Homo sapiens: one gene and its partners. The protein of the gene in region 5 purifies or fractionates together with the protein of the main gene of each other region. This does not show direct contact. Each region holds a gene or a part of one and is shown on either strand. Other genes may lie near its edges. The genes, in order: PODXL, ATP7A, XPO5, MMS22L, NCR3LG1, DAGLB and XPO6.

Region 1 (3,500 bases), on a different chromosome or scaffold from region 5:
CTAGAGGCTGTGGAAATGACAGGGGGTCCTCAGCCAGTGGGCCAGTGGCAAACACCGACATATTTAGGCACAATGCATGGTGGCCAGTGCTATGGCACAGTATTCCAGGCACCCTTAGGAGTCTAACTCTTAAATAGCAACATGGCCCCAAGCCTCAATTTACCCTTATGGTAGAGGGGTAGGGAAAGAGATGTGGGCACAGTATAGGTTTGTCACCATCCTAAAGTCCTTTTTAAAGAGGTTTTTCGCCAGGCATGATGGCTCATGCCTGTAATCCTAGCACTGGGAGGCTGAGGTGGGCAGATCACTCAAGGTTAGGCGTTCAAGACCAGCCTGGCCAACATGGTGAGACCCTATTTCTACAGAAATTAGCTGGGTGTGGTGGCGCATGCCTGTAGTCCCAGCTACTCAGGAGGCTGAGGCAGGAGGATGTCTTGAATCTGGGAGGCAGAGGTTGCAGCAAGCCACCTGCACTCCACCCTTGGCAACACAGCGAGATTCCATCTCAGAACAAAAAGAAGTAAAATAAAAAAATATATAAAGGGGATTTGGTGAGTTTTTCCAATTCCCAGGAGGGAATCAGCACTGAAAGGGCTGAGTTCTATTCTGGTATTTACAGCTGACACGTATGCGCACATGCACACACATACATGCACGCACACACACACACACGCACACACACGTGTGCACACCCACCTCCTGGAAAGCTATTTATTGAGAGTCACTGGGAACTTGGGCGAATGAACCCACCTCCCTGGCCTGCAATCCCCCATTTGAAACAAGCAGGTTGTAGTAGATGATTTCCAGAAGGCTCCCCAGCTCTAGAATTCTGTGTCCTATGATTTTCTGGCTCATTTAGAAGTGGTGTGGAAAGTACCCTTTGCCAACCGAATTCCACATTGCACAGCCTGCAGGCTGCCGACTCGAAGCAGTCATATGGCAAATGTTACTGCAAATATGAAGAGGCTCCTTTAAGGGATCCTCTGTGTCAATTTTCTTGAAGGCTTTTCTTATAGAGAATGCCCCCGTCATTTGGCCTGTGCAGGGTAGGAGTCACCATCCCAGATCTGCTACATCACTTGATTTCTTAACAGCCCCATAGAGCAGACAGGATACATGATAAAGAGAGGCCCATCCAACTTAGCCCATGTTCCTGGGTCCGGGACAGGAAACCCCACCAGCTGAGCTCCCTGCCCTGCTTCATGGCCAGTGGGTGCAAATAGGAAATGAGCCCAGAGCTGGGTAAAGAGCTCCTGGCTGAGGTCCAGTGAAAGTGTCCAGGCAGGCTCAGGCTGGTGGGTAGGGATGGGCAGGGCAATGCCATTCTCTTTCTCTGATTATGTAGGAATGACTTCCATTTCAGCTAGAGCAAAGCTTGCATTCAGCAGCCCTGAAGAGGGCCTCTGCCTCAAAGGGTGTGAAGAAGCAGCACTTCCTGGAATAGGGGTCATCTACGTCCCCTCCTGAGAAGTCCAGTGAACTGGAGACACGATTCCTCCCACTTCCCTTAAGAGTGAAGGGCTCTGAGCTGGGTGCGGTGGCTCATGCCTGTGATCCCAGCACTTTGGGAGGCTGAGGCGGGCGGATCATGAGGTCAGGAGATCGAGACCTTCCTGGCTAACATGGTGAATCCCCGTCCCTACTAAAAAATACAGAAAATTAGCCGGGCGTGGAGGTGGGCGCCTGTAGTCCTAGCTATTCGGGAGGCTGAGGCAGGAGAATGGCGTGAACCCGGGAGGTGGAGCTTGTAGTGAGCTGAGATCACGCCACTGCAGTCCAGCCTGGGTGACAGAACGAGACTCCATCTCAAAAAAAAAAAAAACAGTGAAGGGCTCTGAGCTAAGTGCTGAGCCAGCTCCACAGCAGCCACCAGCATCACAGGGGTCACCAGCCCCACAGAAGCCTTAACCTTCAGCAGTTGCTCCCACCAGCTCTAGCTGCTGGAGAACAAGCCCACTGGCCAGACATCCCTTCCCAGGATGCAAACTCCCCTTCCAGGGAGCCTAAAGCCAGGGCTGAAGCCGGTTCCCCTCAGTTCTACAGTCCAGAGTATCCCAAGCGACCGCTCAGCGCTGGGTGCTGGGCTGGGCCCTGGAGGTGGTGATAAGTATGTTGTTGGCCCCTCGAGGGCCTCACCGCATGGTGGAGGAGACACACAGATCATGGAACACACTTTGGTTCTCCCTAGGAAACCAGGGAAGGCATCTCAGAGATGATGCCTGAGGGTGGCTAGGAGTGGCTCTTCCCCTCCCTCCCTGCAAGGGGGGGAATTCTAACCACAGGGAGTCTAGTCCCCTTCCCCTCTCAGCTTTCCACAGGGCAGTGGTGTTAAAACCCCAGGCAGCACCCTCCTCTCCTTTCAAACATGGGTTCCTGAGGAAAACCAGATGGGGGACAGCCTCCATGCCTCTTCCCCCACCTTCTCTAGGCCTGGGGGACACCCTGAGGACCCTCCTGGGCAGGCCACGCTCCCCTCCTCAGCCCTTCTCTGGACGACCACACTCCAAAGCTCTGGCCACACTGACACCAGGTGCTTTTGGGTCTGCCCTTGAATGGCTGGGCTCCTAACCCCGCCATGTCCAGCTCGCTCCTGCCTCAGATCCTGTCCCAAGCTGCACCATGCTGGGAACACCCACATTCCCCCACCCCAGCCCTGGGCACCTTGTTTTTTTCCTTGAGTCAGGGTCTCCCTCTGTTGCCCAGGCTGGAGAGCAGTGGCGTGATCTTGGCTCACTGCAACCTCTGTCTCCCACGTTCAAGCAATTCTCCTACCTCAGTCTCCTGAGTAGCTGGGACTACAGGCGTGTGCCACTACCATGCCCAGCTAATTTTTTTGTCTTTTTAGTACAGTCTTACTAGGTTGCCCAGGCTGGTCTTGAACTCCTAGGCTCAAGTGATCCTCCCACCTTGGCCTCTCAAATTTGCTGGGATTCCAGGCGTGAGCAGCCACACCCTGCCACCGTGGAATTTTCTCTCCAGTTCTGAGAGCTAATCTCCCCAAAGCCTCAATGACTCCATCTCAAGAACCACCATCACAGACTCCCCGACCCTAATCTGCATCTCCCCTACACACTACAATTCATAGAGCCTCAGCCACATTAGGAAACACTGACCCTTTTAATTTTAAAATCCCTATGTGAAAACCCCACCTCCTTCAGGAAGCTTTCTCCAGACCTCCAGACCACCCCTTCCAAATCTTATACTCTTTTCCATATGCCTCCCTCTCCCACAGAGTGGCACTGGGGCTTCAGTTTTTATTATCATATATCCACTGATACCCACAAACATTGGCAGGATCCCAATGCCTGGGGTCCCTTAAACCCACCAGGTGCTCAATATATATGCTTACTAATCATCATAGCTATTTTTTGAGTGTTGATCCTGAGTTGGGCGTAAAGCCAAGCCCATGATATATATACTCGCTCATCTTCATAGCAACCCACAAGGTAGGGCTGTTATTACTTTATAGATGAAGAAACTGAGGTTCAGGGAGGTCCACT
Region 2 (3,500 bases), on a different chromosome or scaffold from region 5:
TCTTTTTGTGCCCAAATGTATGAGATATTGGTAGACTACATCAGTTTTCACAGATACCTCTTTCCTTGAAGGAAATGAGGGTAAAATACCCCATTTTGAGTCAGTTATGTGTACTTTGTACCATATTTTCTGTTCACATTTAAAATTATACAGCTATGTCTCAAGGATGAAAAAAGAGTTTTACTTATTTTTACTATTAATCTCTAGTGTAGAAGTCCAGTTTTTCAGACCTATAATCAGGAGTGCATTTTTAACAATTTACCAGTTGAAATAAATGGGTTATTTCACATTGTAGGGATATTGTTTTAGACTGGCCATTAACCTTATTTTATTTTATTTTTATTTTAAAAGATGTTATTGTTATTATTTATCTATGTATTTATTTCTAGAGGCAGGGCCTCGCTCTGTGGCCCAGGCTAGGGTGCCATGGCACAATCATAGCTCACTGCAGCCTTAATCTCCTGGGCTCAAATGATCCTCTGGCCTCTCAAGTAGCTGGAACCACAGGCGCATGCCACCATGCCTAGCTACTTATTTATTAATTAATTATTATTTTTTAAATAATATTATTTTTAAGAGATGGGGTCTTGCTCTGTCACCCAGGCTGGAGTGCAGTGGCGCCATCATAACTCACTGCAGTCTCGATCTCCCAGGCTCAAGCGATCCTCCTACCTCAGCCTCCTGAGTAGCTGGGACTATAGGTGTGTGCCACCACTCCCAGCTAATTTTTAAACTTTTTGTAGAGACAGCATCGTGCTGTGCAGTGGTGCTATCTCGGCTCACTGCAACCTCCGCCTCCTGGGTTCTAGTGATTCTCTTGCTTCAGTCTCCCAAGTAGCGGGGATTACAGGTGCGCGCCACCACACTTGGTTAGTTTTTGTATTTTTGGTAGAGAAGGGGTTTTGCCATGTTGGTCAGGCTGGTATCGAACTCCTGACTGACCTCAAGTGATCCACCCTCCTCAGCCTCCCAAAGTGCTGGGATTACAGGCATGAGCCACTGTGCCAGGCCTTAAAACACCTAGTGTTAAAAATGGTGTCTTAATTGTATTCTCAGATTCTCCTAGAAAGAAAAGATATACTAAATGTATATTTAGATATACTAAAACACCTAATGTTTATTTTTGTTTATTTATTTTTGAGATGGAGTCTGGCTCTGTCACCTAGGCTGGAGTGAAATGGTCTATGTTTGTTTTTTCATCTTGACAGTAATATCTTTGAACATTTTCTGGAGTATTAGATATTATTCTCTTGATGCTTCAAGGTATCTTAACTTCACCATTGTATTGCGATATATTGTTTTGGAGAGACAGTATAATATAGGATTAAGAGTGGAGGCTAGGTGGGGCACAGTTGCTCACGCCTGTAATCCCAGCACTTTGGGAGGCCGTGGCAGGCGGATTGCTTGAGCCCAGGCGTTCGAGACCAGCCTGGGCAACATAGGGAAACCCTGTCTCTACAAAAAATACAAAAATTAGCTGAGTGTGTTGGCACGTGCCTGTAGTCCCAGCTACTCAGGAGGCTGAGGTGGAAGGATCGCTTGAGCCTGGAAGGTTGAGGCTGCAGTGAGCTGAGATCACACCACTGCACTCCACCCTGGATGAGAGAGTGACAGAGTGAGACCCTGTCTTGTCCGGAAAAAAAAAAAAAGCCTGTCTTGTCTGGCTCAGTCCAGGTGCTAGACTGTCTAGGTGGGATCCCAGCCCCTCTGCTTACTACTTGTATGACCCTGCGCAGATTTCATACTCCTCTGTGCCTCAGTTCCTTCAAATTTCTAAAATGGGGACAATAACAGTACCTGTCTCACAGGATTGTTAATGATCTAATACATGTACGGTGTCTGGCAGATAGTAAACATACAATAAAATGTAGTTACCTTTAATATTTTAATATATTATTTACTGTAAAAGTAATTTTAACATCCTATATAATAAAATTATAAATTACAGTTTTGCTGTACTATAAATTTAGTAGACTACAGGATCAATATACTAATCAATCAATACTTGCAAGCAATATTTAAATTCTTTAAAAAAATTTTTTTTGGAGACAGGGTCTTGCTCCGTAGCCCAGGCTGGAGTTGCAATGGCACGATCTCGGCTCACTGCAACCTCTGCCTCCAGGGTTCAAGCGATTCTCATGCCTCAGCCCCCCGAGTAGATGGGGTTACAGGCGTGTGCCACCACACCCGGCTAATTTATTTATTTTTAGTAGAGATGGGGTTTCGCCATGTTGGCCAGCCTGGTCTCAAACTCCTGGCCTCAGGTGATCTGTCCGCTTCAGCCTCCCAAAGTGCTGGGATTACAGGTTTGAGCTACCGCTCCCGGCCCTGCCACCACGCCCGGCACAATACTTAATTTCTAACTTACACCATAGAAAATTGGCCGGTGCGGTGGCTCACGCCTGTAATCTCAGCACTTTGGGAGGCTGAGGTGGGTAGATTGCTTGAATTCAGGAGTTCCAGACCAGCCTGGGCAACAAGGTGAAACCCCATCTCTACAAAAATTACAAAAAATAGCCAGGTGTGGTGGCATGCGCCTATAGTCCCAGCTACTGGGGAGGCTAAAGTGGGGGAATTGCTTGAGCCTGGGAGGTTGAGGCTGCAATGAGCTGAGATCATGCCACTGCAGTCCAGCCTGGGTGACAGAGTGAGACCCTGTCTCAAAAAAAAAAAAAAAAAGAAAAAAAAAGAGAAAGAAAATGGAAAACTCAGATTGAGAGGGTCCCCCAGTAGCCTATAGTACACCTACATATGCTAACATGGCATCTTAAAGCTCATTATTACAGCTGGCAAATCAAATCACTGTGATGTGCTCATCCTATTTCCCTATCAAGAAAACTCATAACAATCTGCTTCTGTAATTAGTGAGCCACAGACTCTAGGCCATCGAGATTTTCCACATTCCCTAATTGTCAAATGCTGAACCATACTTGTACTGAATAAGTTGTGATACAGTGTAAGCAAGGGAAAAGGCCTTATGTATGTCTAACCTACTCTGCAAATAGCTGCATTCTTACAAAGTTGTGTGTAAATTGAATTTTTACAAAGCATGTCAGCACTTTGATTAGTACATTTTTATTGTGTGCTTATTGCATATTCAGTGTTTCCTGTGAGCTATACAAAGAAGCATAAGGCATATGTTCCAATGTCTAGCAAGAGAAAGAAGTTTAATACCAAGCAGAGAGAAATTAGGTACTACTAAACTATGAAACTGATTCCAGGGTATTCGGAATTTAAAAAGAAAGTGGCTAGGAGTATTTGACATGATTTTTCATGAAGGAGGTGGGACTTCAGTTCATTTACTTACTCAACAGTGATTTATTGAGTAGCCACCATGTTCACTGGTGGTATGATAGTGAACAGAGCAGATATGGTCCTGTTTCTGTGGAGTTTACAGACTAGTGAAGTAATAGAACTTAAATATGTGCAAGAAAACATTCTAGGTGAGGGGACCAGTTCTAAACAAAGTCATAGAAATAAATGATAAGAGCATGGACTAT
Region 3 (3,500 bases), on a different chromosome or scaffold from region 5:
CTGAGATCAGGAGTTCGAGACCAGCCTGGTCAACATGGTGAAACCCTGTCTCTACTAAAAATACAAAAATTAGGCCAGGTGCCGTGGCTCACACCTGTAATCCTAGCACTTTGGGAGGTCAAAGCAGGTGGATCACTTGAGGTCAAAAGTTCGAGACCAGCCTGGCCAACATAGTGAAACCCCATCTCTACTAAAAAATACAAAAATTAGCTGGGTGTGGTGGCACACGCCTGTAATCCCAGATACTCAGGAGGCTGAGGCAGGAGAATTGCTTGAACCCGGGAGGCAGAGGTTGCACTGAGCTGAGATTGCGCCACTGCACTCCAGCCTAGACAACAGAACGAGACTCCATCTCAAAAAATAAATAAATAAATAAATAAATGTGTTGGGCAATAATGCTGATATGACAGCAAAGTAAATTACATTTGTAGATAATATTCCTATGGAGAAAAGAGTCACAGTTCCATTGGTTAGCCAAGACAGACATAGGCTTGGCGCAGTGGCTCACGCCTGTAATCCCAGCACTTTAGGAGGCTGAGGAGGGCAGATCACTTGAGCTCAGGAGTTCGAGAAGAGCCTGGCTAACATGGCAAAACCTCATCTCTACTAAAAAATACAAAAATCAGTCGGGCATGGTGGCGTGTGCCTATAGTCCTAGCTACTCGGGAAGCTGAGGCAGGAGAATCGCTTGAACCCGGAAGGCGGACGTTGCAGTGAGCCAACATCACGCCACTGCACTCCAGCCTGGGTGACAGAGCAAGACTGTTTCAATTAAAAAAAAAAAAAAAAAAAAAAGACAGATATAAACCTACTGTAGCCACCATCCAAGATTCCTTGACATTCATTAAGTGAGCTTTAAACTTAAACATTTACTTTTATCTGTTAACTGTAAATTGCCAAGTATCATGGCTATTTCAAGAACCATGCAGCCTGATAAATCTCCACATTCTGCCAAAGGATCCCTTGAATATTGGCAAACTCCTGTCCAAGGGGGTTGGAAGCAGGCAGTAAGTTGGCCCCAAGGAAAAAAACCCAAACCTTTAAATGACTTTCTGCCACAACATGCAATTAAACACATACACAGCCTACTTCAGAGACTGAGGATAAGTCAGTTTGAAGTGGTAACTTACTTTTCTGCTGACTGCAATGAGAAGACACTCAGCGGCTCCCAACTGAAGTTCCTGTTCATTCAACAGCAAACACAGTATCTCCAGGAGTTTACAGTTTTCAGCAGTGATGTGACTCATAGACACCCAGTCAATATAGCCTGCTAGAGTATTCAGTGCTGCAACTCCTACTCGACAGTTTGCTTGCGCCTACCAGAAAAGAAGTAACTTTGGACCATGAAGTCCTCGGTAACAGGTAAGGAATCAGTGGTTATAACTGAACTCCCATTTTCTAATTCTAAGAAAATTATTTTTTAAGAATATACTCATGTAACAGTCACAGGTAGGGAACACAATCACTTCTCAAACAATGACATTCTCAACATCCAACAACAAGACCATACTGGCATGTGTGGCCATTTTATCTTTTTCACAAAACCCCAAATCTTATCATTTTACTTCCCAAGGCTGGGTGCAGTGGCACACACCTGCAATACCAGCACTTTGGGAGGCCAAGGTGGGTGAATCAACTGAGCCCAGGAGTTAAAACAACAGCCTGGGCAACATGGCAAAACTAGTGTCTACCAAAAAAACAAAAAATAAAATAAAATAAAAAAAATACCCTAACCAAAAAAATACAAAAATTAGCCAGGCATGATGGTGTGCATCTATAGTCCCAGCTACTCATGAGGTTGAGGTAAGGCTCACTTGAAGCCTGGAGGCTGAAGCTGCAGTGAGCCACGTTTGCGTCACTGTACTCTAGCCTGGGTGACAAAGTAAGACCCTGTGTCAAAAAAAAAAAAAAAAAGTAAGTCTGTTTTTGTTTTTTTTTTTTACTTCCCTTCAACCATAGCTCAGTGATCAAAAACAGAACAAAGGACAGGCTGGGCATGGTGGCTCACACCTGTAATCCCAGCACTTTGGGAAGCTGAGGAGGGCGGATGATGAGGTCAGGAGATTGAGACTATCCTGGCTAACATGGTGAAACCCCGTCTCTACTAAAAATACAAAAAATTAGCTGGGTGTGGTGGCGGGCACCTGTAGTCCCAGCTACTCGGGAGGCCAGGCAGGAGAATGGCGTGAACCCAGGAGGCAGAGCTTGCAGTGAGCCGAGATCGCGCCACTGCACTCCAGCCTGGGCAAGTGAGCGAGACTCCGTCTCAAAAACAAAAACAAAAACAAACAAAAAAAACAAACGACAGATGCAGTGGCCCACAGTCACTTCAGGAGGTCGAGGCTGGAGGATCACTTGAAGCCAGGGGTTTGACACCGGCCTAGGCAACACACTGAGACCCTGTTTCTATAGAAAGTATTAGCTGGGCATGGTGGTGCGCACCTATATTCCCAGCTACTCATGAAGTTGAGGTGAGAGGATCACTTGAGCTGGGGAGGTCATGGCTGCAGTGAGCTGAGACCACACAACTGCACTCCAGCCTGGGCAACAGTAAGACCTGTCTCCAAAACAATACAACACAAGCAAGGCTGAGGTCACCATCCACTAGGGGCACGTATCCCCTCACCTGAAAGGTTCAAAGGTCTCCTTCAAACTTTATAAAGAGCTCTTACCTTTGACTCCTGAGAAGTATCTGTCTTCTGAAAGGAAGTATAAAGATCCAGTGTTTTTAATGAGCAAAAGGCCACATAATAACTTTCTACCCCCCACAAATCAATGCCCTTGAATAATGATTCTTAAATATATGCAATTTTTCATCTTGGAAAATAACACAACTTTACTAAGCACGCATAACTGATATTCCCCTAGGGAGAACAAGTAAAGTCAGAAGCATAATTAAATGAATACAATTCATGAACATGTATGTATAGCCTAAGTATATGAAAACCATGTACTCAAAAATACTGGATGTTGGCCAGGCGTGGTGGCTCACGCCTGTAATCCCAGCAGTCTGGGAGGCCAAGGCAGGTGGATCACCTGAGGTCAGGAGTTTGAGACCAGTCTGGCCAACATGGTGAAACCCCATCTCTACTAAAATTACAAAAATTAGCCGGTGTGCTGGCGCATGCCTGTAATCCCAGCTACTTGGGAAGCTGAGGCAGAAGAATCACTCGAACCCGGGAGGCAGAGGTTGCAGTGAACCAAGATTGCACTACTGCACTCCAGCCTGGGCAACAAAAGTGAAACTCCGTCTCAAAAAAAAAAAAACAACAAAAAAAAATACATATATATATGATGTTAAATACATCAGAATAGTGGCTATTCAGTGAATATACAAATATGGTTGATTTTTATCCTTATATTTCAAATCCATACAAAGGCACATAATGTTAACTTACAAGCATACAAAATTAGGCCAGGCGCGGTGGCTCACGCCTACCATCCCAGCACTTTGGAAGACCAAGGCAGGCGGATTATTTGAGGTCAGGAGTTCAAGACCA
Region 4 (3,500 bases), on a different chromosome or scaffold from region 5:
GAAAAGTTTTTCGGACAGGAAGAATTCCAGGCAGAAAAAAATAAAACTGTATAAACAAAGACGTGATGTGTGTAAAAACATAAAAGTTTAGAGAGCATGGATTAAATATTAATTACATATGGTTGGATCAGAATGTGTGTGAGTGATGAATTTGGAAGGGATAAAAGCAGAGTTGGCTTTGTAAACCATGACAGAGAGTATGATTTTTATTTTGGAACTCCTGTGGAGCCACTAAAAGATTATAGTGGAAAGAACCAAAATACCTTTACCTTTACGTAGAATAACTTAAGTAAATTGGGTTCATGGAAGGCATTTATTATGATAGATTATTATTATTACACTTATTAACCTGAAACCACTGCAGTGGACTATTTGTTAAGATGGTTGTTTGTTACACTGACATTTTGGCTGTTTTTGTTGCTTAAAAAAGCTTTTAATGACAGATTTTGGACAAGTTAGTGGTGTTAAATATTATCCATACATGAACATGTCCCTGCCATGTAGCTGTGTTCATTAACTTGTGTAGCTACCCTTGGACCTCAGCTGTGCCAAGAAGTCCCTATGTAGTTACTTACTGCCAGATGAGTATAGTTCTTGTTCTAGCCATTATGCTTCCAGGGTTAATTTCCAGTTGAGGCAGAATAACATACTTAATGACATGTTTTGCTGACAGCTGTTTTTTTTCTCTCTTTCCGTCTCTTTGTCTCTGTCTCAAGACAGGGTCTCACTCCATCGCCCAGGCTGGAGTGCAGTGGTGCGATCATGACTCACTTCAGCCTTGACCTCCTGGGCTCAAGCAGATCCTCCCATCTCAGCTTCCCAAGTAGCTGAGACTACAGGCTCACGCCATCATGCCTGACTAAAATTAATTTTTTGTAGAGATAAGGTCTCACTATGTTGCCAAGACTGGTCTCAAACTTCTGGGCTCAAGTGATCCTCCCGCCTTGGCCTCCTAAAGTGCTAGCATTATAGGTATCACCCACCACACTCAGCCAAGAGCTATTCTTAAATATAATTGTTGGTGTTACCCTGTCTCAGCTATTGTGTGTGTGTTTTTTTTCTCTAGACATTCCTTATGGATTTTTTAAAATGTCTTCTGTTTCTGACTTCATGCTTGTTTTCATCCATCTTGAATATATGGAGTATACATTATAACCACTGTTGTTGCTGCTATTAATAATTCTTCTTTTTGAGAGGGCATCTTGCTCTGTCACCAGGCTGGAGTGCAGTGGCGCCATCTCGGCTTACTGCAACCTCTGACTCCCTGGTTCAAGCAATTTTCCTGCCTCAGCCTCCCGAGTAGCTGGGATTACAGGCACACGCCACCATGCCTAGCTAATTTTTGTATTTTTAGTAGAGACAGGGTTTCATCATGTTGGCCAGGATGATCTTGATCTCCTGACCTCGTGATTCGCCTGCCTCAGCCTCCCAAAGTGCTGGGATTACAGGCGTGAGCCACCATGCCCGGCCAATAATTCTTTTATCACTGTCATTTCTGAAACTATTTGTATTGATTAGTTTTTCTCCTGATTCTGTGATATATTTTTCTGCTTCTTTGAATATATAGTAATGTTTTATTGTTAGATGAACATTGTGGGTTTCACATTGTTGCTTTCTGGATTTTTATTCCTTAAACTAGATGTTGAATTTTGTTATGGGTCGCTATTGTGTAGTTGTAATCCACTGGTTCTTCTTGAGGCTTGTTTTAAATTTTGGTAGGACTTTTAAAAAGCAGCCTTTAATGTTAACTTAGCCTAGTAAATTAGTCTAGTAAGGCTTTGAGAATTCTTTCTCGTGCGTAGTCTATTATGAGATTTTTTTTCATGCTTGCTGGTGAGAACTTGAACTATTCCCTGGCTTGTGTACTCTTTATAGGGAATTGTTTTCTGGTGTTTTTCCCTGGCGTTGGGTAATATTTTTCATGCTTGAACAGATCGATACTTAAATCTCAGAGGGACACTTCTGTACCCTTCCAGAACTCTATTTTGTATAGCTTCTTTCTTCTTGGGTACTTTTGCCCTGCAAATTTGGACTTCCCTAAACTTGGATCCCATATCTCCTCATCTCAAAGAGTGAGTTGGGCTGTATTTGGGTTCTCTTCCTCATATTGAAGCCTGGAAACTGTCTCTAGGTGGGGAGCTGGTACAGTTGTAGGGCTCAGTTTCTCTCTGGGAGAGCAATCTTATATTGTCTTGTGTCCAGAGCCTGAAAACTTGCTTGACGTAATTTTTATGGTTTTCAGCTTTACAGTGGGAGATGGAGCAATCTGATTATTTTACTCCGTCTTGCCTGGATGCAGATGTTCACTGCAGTTATTTTTAAGAGAGTACTGCCTTAATGGGCCGAGAATTGTGAAAATTGGGATGATATGACTTTTTATGGGTGAAATAAAGCCATAAAAATGCAGTTTAATATGGAGGTATTTACACAACTGCTTCACACTTATGCTTCTATTCTGCCACAGTAGTGGCATGATTGTTCATTTGAATTAAACTTTAGTTTCATGTTTAGTATGGCTGTAAATTTGTAGCCTATAATTCTCATCATGTTTTCTTTGCTTTTGTTTACTAGATTGTCTCTTACTCATTCTCTATATAATGATTATTAGTGTTTTGCCCATAGTAACTACCTAGATAATTATTGCTGATATAAATGCTGAAGTAAGTGAGGGAAAGCTGACATGGAGTGAGGTTGGGAGAAAGGCAGCAACTATTAAAAGGTCGTTCAGAGCTTTATAAATTATTATTAGGAGTTTTGATTTTATTCTAAATATAATAGGTATTCTTTCAAGAGTTTTGACTTGGGAACAAGATAAATTGATATACATTTTAAGCAGATTTTTTACTTAGTGTATAGGGGGACAAAAGAGAGCATGGAAAGACCTGTGAAGAGTGCTATTGTGGTGGTTTAAGTGTTTATAGGGAAAATGGATAGTTTCAATGTATATTTGGTTATTAACTTAATAGGACTCTGAAGGATTAGATACGAGGTTAAAGGAAATGCAAGAATCAAGAACCATATAGGCTACTGGTGGCACCATTTTATGAAAGGCTGAAAACAAGGACAGCATCAACAGGTTTTGAAAGAAATCAAAGGAGGTATTATTTGCACTGTCTGAGCAATCCAAGTATAGGTGTTAGGCAGTTTAACACGGAAGGTCTGGAGTGCAAAGGAGAGATGGGGTTGTAGATAACCCTTTTAGAGTCATTATCATTTATTAATAAAGGAACTGATGAGATCATACATATGGGAAGAGATATACAGAGAGTAGAGGATTCAGGACTGAGTCTTGAAGAGACCATATTAATAATAGAATTGAGGAGGAGGAGCCAATAAAAGAGGTAGGACAAAGGATACATGAGGAAGAAAGAAGACTCATTATCTGGCACCATGAAGCCAGGTGTAGCTAGTGCTACTGTGGGAGCAAGTTACTTGAGGGTAGGCACTGTCTATTAGATTGGGCAATGTGGGTGTGATTGGTGACTTTAATAAGAGCATTT
Region 5 (3,500 bases):
CCTCAAGTGTTTTGGGACCTTGGGGCCTTCTTACTGCTGACTTAGCTCTTTGGTCTGCTAGCCTGTTTCCTTTCGCTATTTCATCTACCCGCTTCTGATGCCCTCTGCAATGTCTGACCACTAATTCTCATGGGAGGAACACTGAGGATAATAGCCTGTTGATGTCTTGATGGTATTTAATGCAAGACCCATTAGCGGTGAGGAAGTGCCTTTCCTTTCAGATGGCAGCATGGGCAAGGAGAACTAGAAAGGTACACTTGGAGTCAGTATAAATGTTAGCTGTCTTTCCTTTGCTTAGTTCAAGTGCTCTTGTGAGAGGGATCAGCTCAACTGATTGAGTGTGTGTGCCTGGTGAGAGAGGCACATTTTCAATGTTATTTAGGGTGACTACTGCATATCCCACTTTTCAGACTCCCTGTCCTACAAAAGAGCTCCCATCCATAAAGTGGGTCCAGTCTGGATTTTCTAGGGGAATTTCTTTGAGATCCTCCCTAGCGGCATAGGTTGTACTACAGTCTGTTCACAATTATGTTCAGTTTCTCCAGTTTCCTCTGGGAGGAAAGTGTCTGGGATCAGGCAAGGTCAGGTTTTTAACTGGACTGCAGATTCCTCTAGCAGCAAAGTCTGATACTTGAGGAGGCAGCTGTCTGTTAGCCAGAGACTCGCTTTAGAGGACAGCAAGCCTGCCACATTATTTATGTGAGGCATAAACAGGTTATTCCCCAGGGTTAACTTGGTGGCCTCTGGGACTAGCAGGGCCACTACTGTAACTGCTCAGAGGCAAGCTGGCCATCCTTTAGCCTCCAAGTCAAGCTCTCTACTTAAGTAACCTACTGGCTGTTGAGCTGGGCCTTGAACTTGAATTAAAACTCCCAGGGTCATTCCTTTCCTTTATGATACATAAAGATTAAAGGACTTCCCTACAGAAAGACTGGGGGCTGGTGCTTTAAGCAAGGCTTGTTTTAACTGATTAATGGCCTTTTGACCTTCAGGTTCCCAGGTCAGGAAGTGAGTTTTAGCCACTTGAATTTCTTTTATAAGGTGATATAAAGGGCAACCTATTTTATCATACCTGGGTATCTATAACCTACAAAAACCTGTAATGCCCAAGCATCCCTCAGCTGCTTGAGGGTTCTGGGGAGAGGAAGGGAGGAAATGGGATTAATCCTCTCCTCGCCTAGTGCTCTTGTTCCCTTCTGACAAGACCAGACCTAGGTACTTTACCAAAGTCTGATAGAGCTGAGCCTTAGATTTTGAAGCCTTATATCCCTTTCCAGCTAGGAAATTAAGGAGAGCCTCAGTGCCGTCTCAAGAAACTTCCTCAGTTGGGGCACAGAGGAGAATGTCATCTACATATTGTAAAACTTTAACCTGAGAATGGAAGAATTCGAAGAGATCTCTTGACAATACTTGCCCAAATAGGTGGGGGCTATCTCTAAATCCCTGAGGCAGTACAGTCCAGGTTAACTGGGTGGTTTGATTGGAGGGGTCTTCAAAGGTAAACAAGTATTGGGAGTCAGGGTATAAAGGTATACAGAAAAAGGCATCCTTTAGGCCCAGAACTGTGAACCATTTAGTTCCCTTGGATATTTGAGTTAGCAAAGTATAGGGACTGGGATCTACTGGATGAATCGTAATCACAGCCTCATGAATAAGGCAGAGGTCCTGAACTAGTCTCCCTTCCCCATTGGATTTTTGCACCCCTAATATTGGGGTGTTTCAAGGGCTACTGCAAGGCCTAAGGAGGCCTTGTGCCTTTAGGTTATCAATGCTGGCGTCTAGCCCTTTTCTACTTTCTGGCTTCAGAGGGTATTGTCTCTGGTTAGGAAAAAAAGTGGGATCCTTGAGGTGGATCCAGACTGGTATAGTGGTTATAGTCCGGCCACTTCTTCCCTGAGTTGCCCAAACCTCTGGGTTAATACTGGTTTCCACTAAGGGGAGGCGGAGTTTGTCCTGGAGCCATAAGGATGGTGGCCCCCATACGTGCTGGAATATCTCTATCTAATAAAGGAGTGGGACTTTCAGGCATGACTAAAAAGGCCTGTGTAAACAGTAGGTCCCTCTGACTGCAACTAATAGGTTGAGAAAAATATCAAGTTAAAGTCTTTCCTGAGATGCCCATCATGGTTGTGCTATGGGAGGAACGAAGGCCTGAATTGGAGAGGAAAACAGAAGCCTGGCTCCAGTGTCCAGAAAGAAGTCTACCTTCCTCCCTTCGAACTCCAGAATCACCTGGTGCTCCCGGGTAGTAACAGCAGTCTGAGCCACTGGAGCCAGGGAGTTGAGCCCCAGGACCCATCAGTCCTGCTGGACCATTTGTGAGACTGGCTCTGGACTCAGTGACCTATGCTTCCCAGGACAGTCTGCCTTCCAGTGGTCCCCATTGTATACTGGACAGGGTTGAGGTGGCTTCTTCTTGCTGCCTGGGCAGTCCCTTTTGAAGTGCCCTAGTTTGCCACATTGGTAGCAACTAGCAGGTGTACCTTGGGGATACTGGGTTTTATACAAAGTGGCCACCAGAGTCTCTGCCTTTTTCTTGTGTTTCCTCTCCTTCCCCTGGGCCTCCTCCTGGTCCCTATTATAAAAGACCGAGGTGGCTACCTTCAGGAGGTTTTGTAAGGTGCTATCTAATCCCATGGCCTGTTTCTCTAGCTTCCTTCTGATATCAGGGGCTGTCTGAGTAATAAACTTGTCTTTCAAAATTAGCTGTCCCTCAATTGAATTATTTATGTGAGGTATAAACATACCTAACAGGAGACAAGGAAGTGTGTTTCACTACAGCCTCTCTCAGCCTTTCCAAAAAGGCTGAGGGATTTTCATCTAGTTTTTGATCTATCATGGAGAGTTTGGGGTAATTAAGAGGCTTGGCTCTGGTCCTCTGTAGGCCCTCTAATAAGCACATTTGAAAATGTTTTCTTTGCCACTCATCTAAGGTACCACTGGGGTCCGAATTATGTTGTTCAAGGGGCACTGCCTCGCTTCCTATTGGGTATGTGAATGCTGGTTGTTTCTCACCTTCTTTCCTTATTGAGTGGCTATAGAAGACATGTTGTTCATCTCTGAATTTTTCTGCTGCCTGCAGGGCTACCTGTTTCTCTGTAGTAGTTAAGAGTTTAAGAGCAACATAACATCACCCCAAGTAAGGTCAAACACCTGAGTTAGGTTTTGGAAAGCCTCTATATATCTATCAGGTCATCAGAGAACTTGCCCAGGTCCCCTCTTATTTGCCCAAGGTCCTGTAATGAAAAGGGAACTTGGACCCTAGTGGCACCAGGTCCATCAGGCATTTACTGTAGGGGTAACAGTAAAGTTGGGGGTTGGGAGGATAGAACTGGAGTTGTTGATGTTGTGGCTGGAGGAGGTTCCCAGATAGGGGAGACAGGAAGGATTGGGGCATCCGGAACTGCATCCGAGTGTTCCCTAGGGGTTTGTTTCTCAGACTTTGTGGAATTATCATCTATGGACTTGCCTGATGTAACTGTTAGGAGAGCAGGGTCAAT
Region 6 (3,500 bases), on a different chromosome or scaffold from region 5:
TTATTCTCAAAGGGTACAGCGTCCGTTATGTGGTTCCTTACAGGCTAATCCAGCATTTTGACAGGGTAGTGAGTGGGTGTCAATACGAAGACATGTCCTATTGGGACACAGGGTCTGAGAAGGTGTGGCTCTTGCAGTTAACTGCTCCCTGGAGGGCTCATCACAGACAGAGGGTCTCCGGCCACCCCCCACACACCCAAAGACACCAGGTTCTCAAACGCGGTTTTATGGGAACAGAGGGACCGGCTCCATCAGAAGCATTTACTGAAACAGAAGAAACAGACCAAACCAGATCCCCTCGGCTTACTGAAAAGTAGGTTGAGAAAAGCTCTGCCGTACTCGAAAAAGCAACCCGAGTATGGTCGTCTTTCCCAATGCAACAGCACAAGAGCTTGATTCTGGTTTCCCACACGCTTGTAGCTGCTGTCTTGAGGCCATTAAGTAACTGGCTTGAATCATGACTATCCAGGTGGCTGGGGCCGGCAGAGGAATATGGAGCCATTTTCCCCCCAAGAGGGTCAAAGACAATGATAATGGAAACCACTGTGGCAGCGATGATGATCCAACTGCAAGACAGAGAGAGGAAAAGGCTCGGTGACTGCGGGCCCCAGCCCAGACGCAGATGTCCGGGGTCCCTCCTCCAGGTTCAGTTTCTGAGTCTCTACCACGGAGGGTTCTGTTACCGAGGAAGATGCAGCTCTCCTGGAACCTGCCTGAGGCAAGCAACTTTCTTCTAGAAAGTTCCTTATGAGGCTGGGCATGGTGGCTCACACCTGTAATCCCAGCACTTTGGGAGGCCGAGGCCGGCAGATCACGAGGTCAGGAGATCGAGACCAGCCTGGCCAACATAGTGAAACCCCGTCTCTACTAAAAACACAAAAATTAGCTGGGTGTGGTGGCACGTGCCTGTAGTCCCAGCTTCTGAGGAGGCTGAGGCAGGAGAATCGCTTGAACCAGAGAGTCGGAGATTGCAGTGAGCCGAGGAGGCGCCACTGCACTCCAGCCGGGCGACAGAGGGAGACTCCGTCTCAAAGAAAAAAAAAAAAAAGTTCCTTATGAATCAGTGGTTAACCCAGGCCCTGCCCTAACAGTAAAGGCCACAGAAGGAACAGGGAGGTGTCCGCTGGGCAGAGTTGCAGCCTGCGCCCGGATGCAGCGGGCACTTCTTCTCCATATGGCCCTGGGACCATGACATACGCCCTTCCCCTTCGGTGCCTCAGGGCTCTTCTCATGAAGGTATCACAGAGTACTCTGATAGGCCTCTCATCTATATGTTTAAATATTTCACACTGCAAGACGCCGGATTGAGGAGCACACGCAACCGGGAAATGCCCCTCCCGAAGGGGCTCTGCTGCCCCCTGGCGGTGTGACTCGAGAAACGCAGCAACAGCCCAGGTCTGATTCCTTATTTAGAACAGAGGGTGTTAAGGGGGCGGGACTGGATCATCTCTAAGATTTTTAGCCTAGAAAACACGAAAACCTTATTGTTCTAGAATATTATTCCCTGTCCCACTTCTGGACACCGTATCTCTTTTCATACCTTTAGTTTTAGTTTTTGCTCTGGTTTTGGTCTTTGGTTTTCTTCCGAATTCTTATAAGAGAAGGGTTAGGAATAAAAGACTTTAAGAAAAAAAGAAAAAAAAAAAAGAGAGAGAGACAGAAGGGAATGTAGAAAATAAAGAACCAGTAAGGAAAGAAATCTACATCAATACGTGCATAACGAAAGACGAGTTGTATTTCATGGACAAACAGTGTCTCTAAATTTTCATGAGTTACGCAGAAACTAACTCCAATTTCTAACTATTTGAGGAAGTCCGAGGGACGCTGGACTCTCTGTCATGTTAGAAGGGTTTGTTCACCTATGCCTCAAATCCACTGAAACTCAAAGAGAAGAAGGGAGATGTCACCTGACCACGACGGTTGCGATGATGCCGTTTACAACTGTCCTGTCGCACTGAACACCATCTGCCACCCAGGCAGCCCCCAGAGAGGCCCAGACCATCTCTGGAAAAAACAGCGCCAGGCGGATGTAAAGCAGCTTAGACATAGACTTCCGCGGTCCAGGGTTACAAATCGTTCCTGAAATACAAAAAACGTTCCGACTGCTCAGTTGCTTCCTCAGAGATGAAGAGCTTCCTTTTTGCAAAAATACAGCTTTTGCAGAGCATACATTTGTACTGTGCACACCCGCCTCCTGACTTTTTCTACTTATAATTGGTAATCAGCACCTAAGTCAGACAGCAAGTGAGAAAATGAGGATGGGAAACGTGACAAGAAGTCCTGGGCTCTTTTTTAAGATTTAGCAGGGATTAAAAACACTTCTGGGTTCTCACTGGGGTGACAATATAATCATGGCCCAAACTGGTATACTTCTGAGAGGAAAAAAGGGGACTATTAATAATTATGCTGGGGCCGGGCACGGTGACTCACACCTGTACTCCCAGCACTTTGGGAGGAGGCCAAGGCAGGTAGATCACCTGAGGTCAGGAGTTCGAGACCAGCCTGGCCAACATGGTGAAACCTCATCTCTACTAAAAATTAAAAAATTAGCGAGGCGTGGTGGCGGGCGTCTGTAATCCTAGCTACTTGCGAGGGAGGCTGAGACAGGAGAATCGCTTGAACCCAGGAGGCGGAGGTTGCAGTGAGCTGAGATTGCGCCACTGCACTCTAGTCTGGGTGACAGAGCAAGACTCCGTCTCAAAATAATAATAATAATAATAATAATAATAATAATAATAGTAATAATTATGCTGAGACAACAGGCACAAAACAGAACTGTCCCAGGCAAACAGGGATATATGGTCACCCAAGTTCTAACAGCCATGAAAACAAGCTCCACGTCCCTTTGAGACCTACATTGTTCTAGACACCAACCTAAAACACTTTATGTGCGTAGTTCTGTAATCCCCACAATGACTGGGTTAGTCATTATCTCATTTTACGTATGAGCAAGCAAACTGAAGCTCAGAGAGCGTAATAGCTACCATTCTTTTTGGAGACAAGGTCTCACTCTCTTGCCCAGGCTGGAGTGTGGTGGCACAATCATGACTCACTGCAGCCTCCACCTCTCAGGCTCAAGTGATCCACCCACCTCAGCCTCTCTGGTAGCTAGGACTACAGGTGCACACCACCACGCTGAAATAGGCCTCATAGTCCCATAGACAGTTGTTTTTTTGTGGGCGTTTTTTGGTTAATTTTTGTTTTTGTTTTTTTAGATGGAGTCTCACTCTGTCGCCCAGGCTGGAGTGCAGTAGTGTGATCTCAGCTTACCACAACCTCCGCCTCCCAGGTTCAAGTGATTCTCCTGCCTCAGCCTCCCTAGTAGCTGGGATTAGAGGCATTACACCTGGCTAATTTTTGTATTTTTAGTAGAGACTGGGTTTCACCATGTTGGCCAGGCTGGTCTTGAACTCCTGACCTCAAGTGATCTGCCCGCCTTTGCCTCGCAAAGTGCTGGGATTACAGGCATGAGCCACAGCACCCTACCAGGAAATAGCTTT
Region 7 (3,500 bases), on a different chromosome or scaffold from region 5:
TATGATAAACTAGCAGCTGGAAAGCCTCAGAGAGGTAATGTTTATGGTAACCTTGAGATGTCACATAAGTTTCATTTGCAAGAAAGAAAAGGGCGCTAGAGCAGAGGGAACAGCATCAGCAAAGGCAGACAAGTATTAAAGTGCACTGAGTGTTCTGGGAATGACAAATGGTTTGCTGTGGCTGGAAAACAAGGTGTACTTTGGGAAGTCTTTCATAGATACTCCAAATAAATCACTTTAAGTATTTAATGAACCATCTTCATCCTTACTGAGGGACCTCAAAGTAAGTAAGAAACTTAAAATTCAGGGCCCATGTTACTCTACCATGATGAAAACTTGGTCTCAGACAACAGTGGGAACCCTCTGCTCTGAATGACTGGGGTTCACGTGGCATGATCACATCTGAGCTCTATGAGGCAGCTCAGCAGTACGGAAGATGGACAGAGGGACGCAGAACCTGGAAGAGAGGACCGGTCATGACAGCAACAACCAAAGCAAGAGACAATGACAGCTTGATCAAAGCAGAGGGAATGGAGGGAAAGGTCAGGGTCAGGACACAGATACGTTAGCAGCAGCATCAACAGGTCTGGAAGCAGGGGGGCGCTATAGAAGAGGAAGTTAAAGATGACTCAGGTTCATCATTTGACTAGCTAGAAAATGAGGTCATTAACAGAACCAGGGCAAGACAGAGGAGGCACTAACCTGAGAGGAAGATGATGGATTTGGTTTAACACACATTTAATTTGATGTTGTCAGAACACTGGATATCTACAGCTGGTGAGGGTTTAGTTTTCATTGGTACACGGGTCATAGCTGAAGCCATGGGAGGCTAAACCAAGAGACTAATACCATGGATGCCACGGGAGCCAAGAAGAAAAGTGTTTCAAGAAAAGAAAAGGAGATCAGTGGCTGCCAAAGGCCACACTGAGAGGTCAAATGACCTAAGGATTGAAAATACGCATTAAACTGAACTCAGCACACAGATGTTACACATAATCTTGAAAAGTGGTAAAGACAAAAAGTCTGCTGGCTGGGCGTGGTGGCTTACGCCTGTAATCCTAGCACTTTGGGAGGCTGAGGCCGGAGGATCACTTGAGCCCAGCAGCTCAAGGCCAGCAGGGGCAACATGGTGAAACCTCGTATCTACAAAGAATACAAAATTACCCAGGCATGGTGATGCATACGTATAGTTCCAGCTACTCAGGAGGCTGAGGTGGGAGGATCGCGTGAGCCCCAGGAGATAGAGGCTGCAGTAAGACATGATTGCTCCACTGCACACCAGCCTGGGCGACGGAGTAAGACCCCATCTCAAAAAAAAAAAAAAAAAGTCAGTCAGCAATGGGTTGTAGAATGAATGACAGGGGGAAAGGAGAGGTGGGAGGTTGAAAAAGTAGAGGTAGAGTGGCAACCACACTTTCAGGAATTCCTACCCTTTCAACACAGCCTGTGCTATCACATCTTCCTTGGCTTAGACAGATACATTTGACAATGCAACTACTTAAGATCTTCAACATCCTTCTCGTGCCCAGGGCCAACTACCTTCATGTCAACAGCGCCACAACTGCTCACCTACCTACAGAGATAGCCACATCCCATATTTCATCAGCACATGGCCCATCTCCTGTCATCTCTTCCTATCAGTTTACATGTTATCGCTTCCATTCCTACCAAATCCAAATCACCAACTGATTAAAACTTTCTACTACTCTCAATCGCCAGGTTACAGGCTTCCAAAATCAGCTTGTGCTTTTCCTTCTTCCTCATCTCTTAACTCTGGAATCAGTTTTAAGTGACAACTCCCTTACCAGGTCTTCCTCTCAACCACTAATTACACATGCAAGAACAGGCAGGCCCTTGTCACATCCACACAGGCATGGTGTAACATCTGGTTTCCCACATCTAACCTATACACAGCAGATTAAGTTTCCTTTAAGGAAAAACCATCCAACAAGAGAAAGCCAAACTCCCTAGGGTAGTACTGGAGACCCTCCATCATCTAGCCACAAACTACCTTGATAGCCTTCTCTCCAACTACTTCTTCACATCCTTCTCTTCTGAAACTTCCAAACTTCTGAAACTGCTAGGGAGCCTAGTTTACTCCTTCCCTAAAGCTCCCTTTGAACACCCAAGACCTCAACAACATCCCTACCACAATTTAATTGCCCACTATGCCAAGAATTGCTCTAGACTCTTGGGATACATGAACAAAAGAGAGATTCCCTAGCTTTATGGAGCTAACATTTTAGCAGGAGACAACAAAAGACCAACCTCATTAATAATATTGAGTATATAAAATGTTAAAAAATTGTACAAAAAGAGAAGTAAAGCAGGATGTCAGGGACTGGAAGTGCTGAAGTGGCATTACCATTTTAAACAGGGTGGTGAGGGAAGGCCCCACTGGAAAAGTGACTCGAGGCTTAAAGGTTTAGTCAAGCAGATTCTCAGGGAGAGCACGGTCCAAGCAGAGGCAGGGAGCCAGGCCAAAGGCCTGGAGCAGGAACATGCCCAGAAGGTCTGAAGAGCAGTAAGAAGACCGAGGGAGCTGCAGCACAGCCAGTGAGAGCTAAAGGAGGTGAGCTAGAGGGGAGATGTGACCCGTCTCACAAACCAGCTTGGATGTCAAGCAGACAGCTGGAGACTCGAGAACTGGAGCTGAGGAGAGAGATGTTGGGTTATAGGTGTCCTGGATGAAGGCACTAAGTTCGAGGCCTAGAGTGTTCCGGCTATGAGATGAGGAAGAAACAACCTGTGCGACAGGAGGAAAACCAAGAACACACCTTAGTGTCCCAGCGGCCAAGTGACGAAAGGCTGAACTGCAGAAGGGGTACTCCACTTGTCTGACACTACTGACAGATCCAGTAAGATAGGGACTGAGAGCTAACCACTGGATTTAGCAACACTGGATAAGCAACACTTATCACCTTGATAAGTGAGATTAAGAGAGAATAATGCCAGGCGTGGGGACTCACATCTATAATCCCAGCATTTTGGGAGGCCTAGGCAGGGGGATCCCTTGAGCCCAGGAGTTCAAGGCTGCTGTGAACTATGGTCACTCCACTGCACTCCAGCCTGGGCGACAGAGCGAGATCCTATGTCTAAAATTAATGAGCAAAGGGAAAGTGAGGAATTAGAGACCAAGTACAGGCCACTCCTTCCTGGGGTTTTGTTGCAAAGGGGAAAAAAGAAATAGGGCAATAACTGGCCAGGAAAGTAGGAGTAAAGGTTTCAGATAAAAAAAATACCATGTTTGTGTACTACATGTATATGTGTACATAGGTATGCATATAAAGCCCTAGAAAGTCCTACGCACCCAACAAATGTTTATTTCCTTCACTCTCACTTCACACCTATCATTTTCTATTATCTTTGTTGCTATATATGTGACCTTTGTAACTGTCTGCAAGAAACTTTCACTTGGAAGGCCCTTTCTTTGTCCCAGTGTCAAACTCTTCCTCATCCTTCAAGACTCAAATATACCTTCCTGGGAAGCCTTCCCTGAC

Evidence for each region.
Region 1: the proteins of NCR3LG1 (region 5) and PODXL purify together in Homo sapiens (affinity purification with mass spectrometry; 2 studies listed by BioGRID and IntAct, with this or other methods). This does not show direct contact.
Region 2: the proteins of NCR3LG1 (region 5) and ATP7A purify together in Homo sapiens (affinity purification with mass spectrometry; 2 studies listed by BioGRID and IntAct, with this or other methods). This does not show direct contact.
Region 3: the proteins of NCR3LG1 (region 5) and XPO5 purify together in Homo sapiens (affinity purification with mass spectrometry; 2 studies listed by BioGRID and IntAct, with this or other methods). This does not show direct contact.
Region 4: the proteins of NCR3LG1 (region 5) and MMS22L purify together in Homo sapiens (affinity purification with mass spectrometry; 2 studies listed by BioGRID and IntAct, with this or other methods). This does not show direct contact.
Region 6: the proteins of NCR3LG1 (region 5) and DAGLB purify together in Homo sapiens (affinity purification with mass spectrometry; 2 studies listed by BioGRID and IntAct, with this or other methods). This does not show direct contact.
Region 7: the proteins of NCR3LG1 (region 5) and XPO6 purify together in Homo sapiens (affinity purification with mass spectrometry; 2 studies listed by BioGRID and IntAct, with this or other methods). This does not show direct contact.

The regions. Positions count from the first base shown.
Region 1 is NC_000007.14:131,550,129-131,553,628, forward strand, and holds part of PODXL (podocalyxin isoform 1 precursor), read right to left. Parts: intron 1-3,500. UniProt on the Homo sapiens protein: Involved in the regulation of both adhesion and cell morphology and cancer progression. Functions as an anti-adhesive molecule that maintains an open filtration pathway between neighboring foot processes in the podocyte by charge repulsion.
Region 2 is NC_000023.11:77,913,693-77,917,192, forward strand, and holds part of ATP7A (copper-transporting ATPase 1), read left to right. Parts: intron 1-3,500. UniProt on the Homo sapiens protein: ATP-driven copper (Cu(+)) ion pump that plays an important role in intracellular copper ion homeostasis.
Region 3 is NC_000006.12:43,566,039-43,569,538, forward strand, and holds part of XPO5 (exportin-5), read right to left. Parts: intron 2,700-3,500; coding exon 2,673-2,699; intron 1,317-2,672; coding exon 1,131-1,316; intron 1-1,130. UniProt on the Homo sapiens protein: Mediates the nuclear export of proteins bearing a double-stranded RNA binding domain (dsRBD) and double-stranded RNAs (cargos). XPO5 in the nucleus binds cooperatively to the RNA and to the GTPase Ran in its active GTP-bound form.
Region 4 is NC_000006.12:97,273,217-97,276,716, reverse strand, and holds part of MMS22L (protein MMS22-like), read left to right. Parts: intron 1-3,500. UniProt on the Homo sapiens protein: Component of the MMS22L-TONSL complex, a complex that promotes homologous recombination-mediated repair of double-strand breaks (DSBs) at stalled or collapsed replication forks.
Region 5 is NC_000011.10:17,372,300-17,375,799, reverse strand, and holds part of NCR3LG1 (natural cytotoxicity triggering receptor 3 ligand 1 precursor), read right to left. Parts: coding exon 3,288-3,500; 3' UTR 1-3,287. UniProt on the Homo sapiens protein: Triggers NCR3-dependent natural killer cell activation.
Region 6 is NC_000007.14:6,434,455-6,437,954, forward strand, and holds part of DAGLB (diacylglycerol lipase-beta), read right to left. Parts: intron 2,080-3,500; coding exon 1,908-2,079; intron 567-1,907; coding exon 308-566; intron 1-307.
Region 7 is NC_000016.10:28,201,966-28,205,465, forward strand, and holds part of XPO6 (exportin-6), read right to left. Parts: intron 1-3,500. UniProt on the Homo sapiens protein: Mediates the nuclear export of actin and profilin-actin complexes in somatic cells.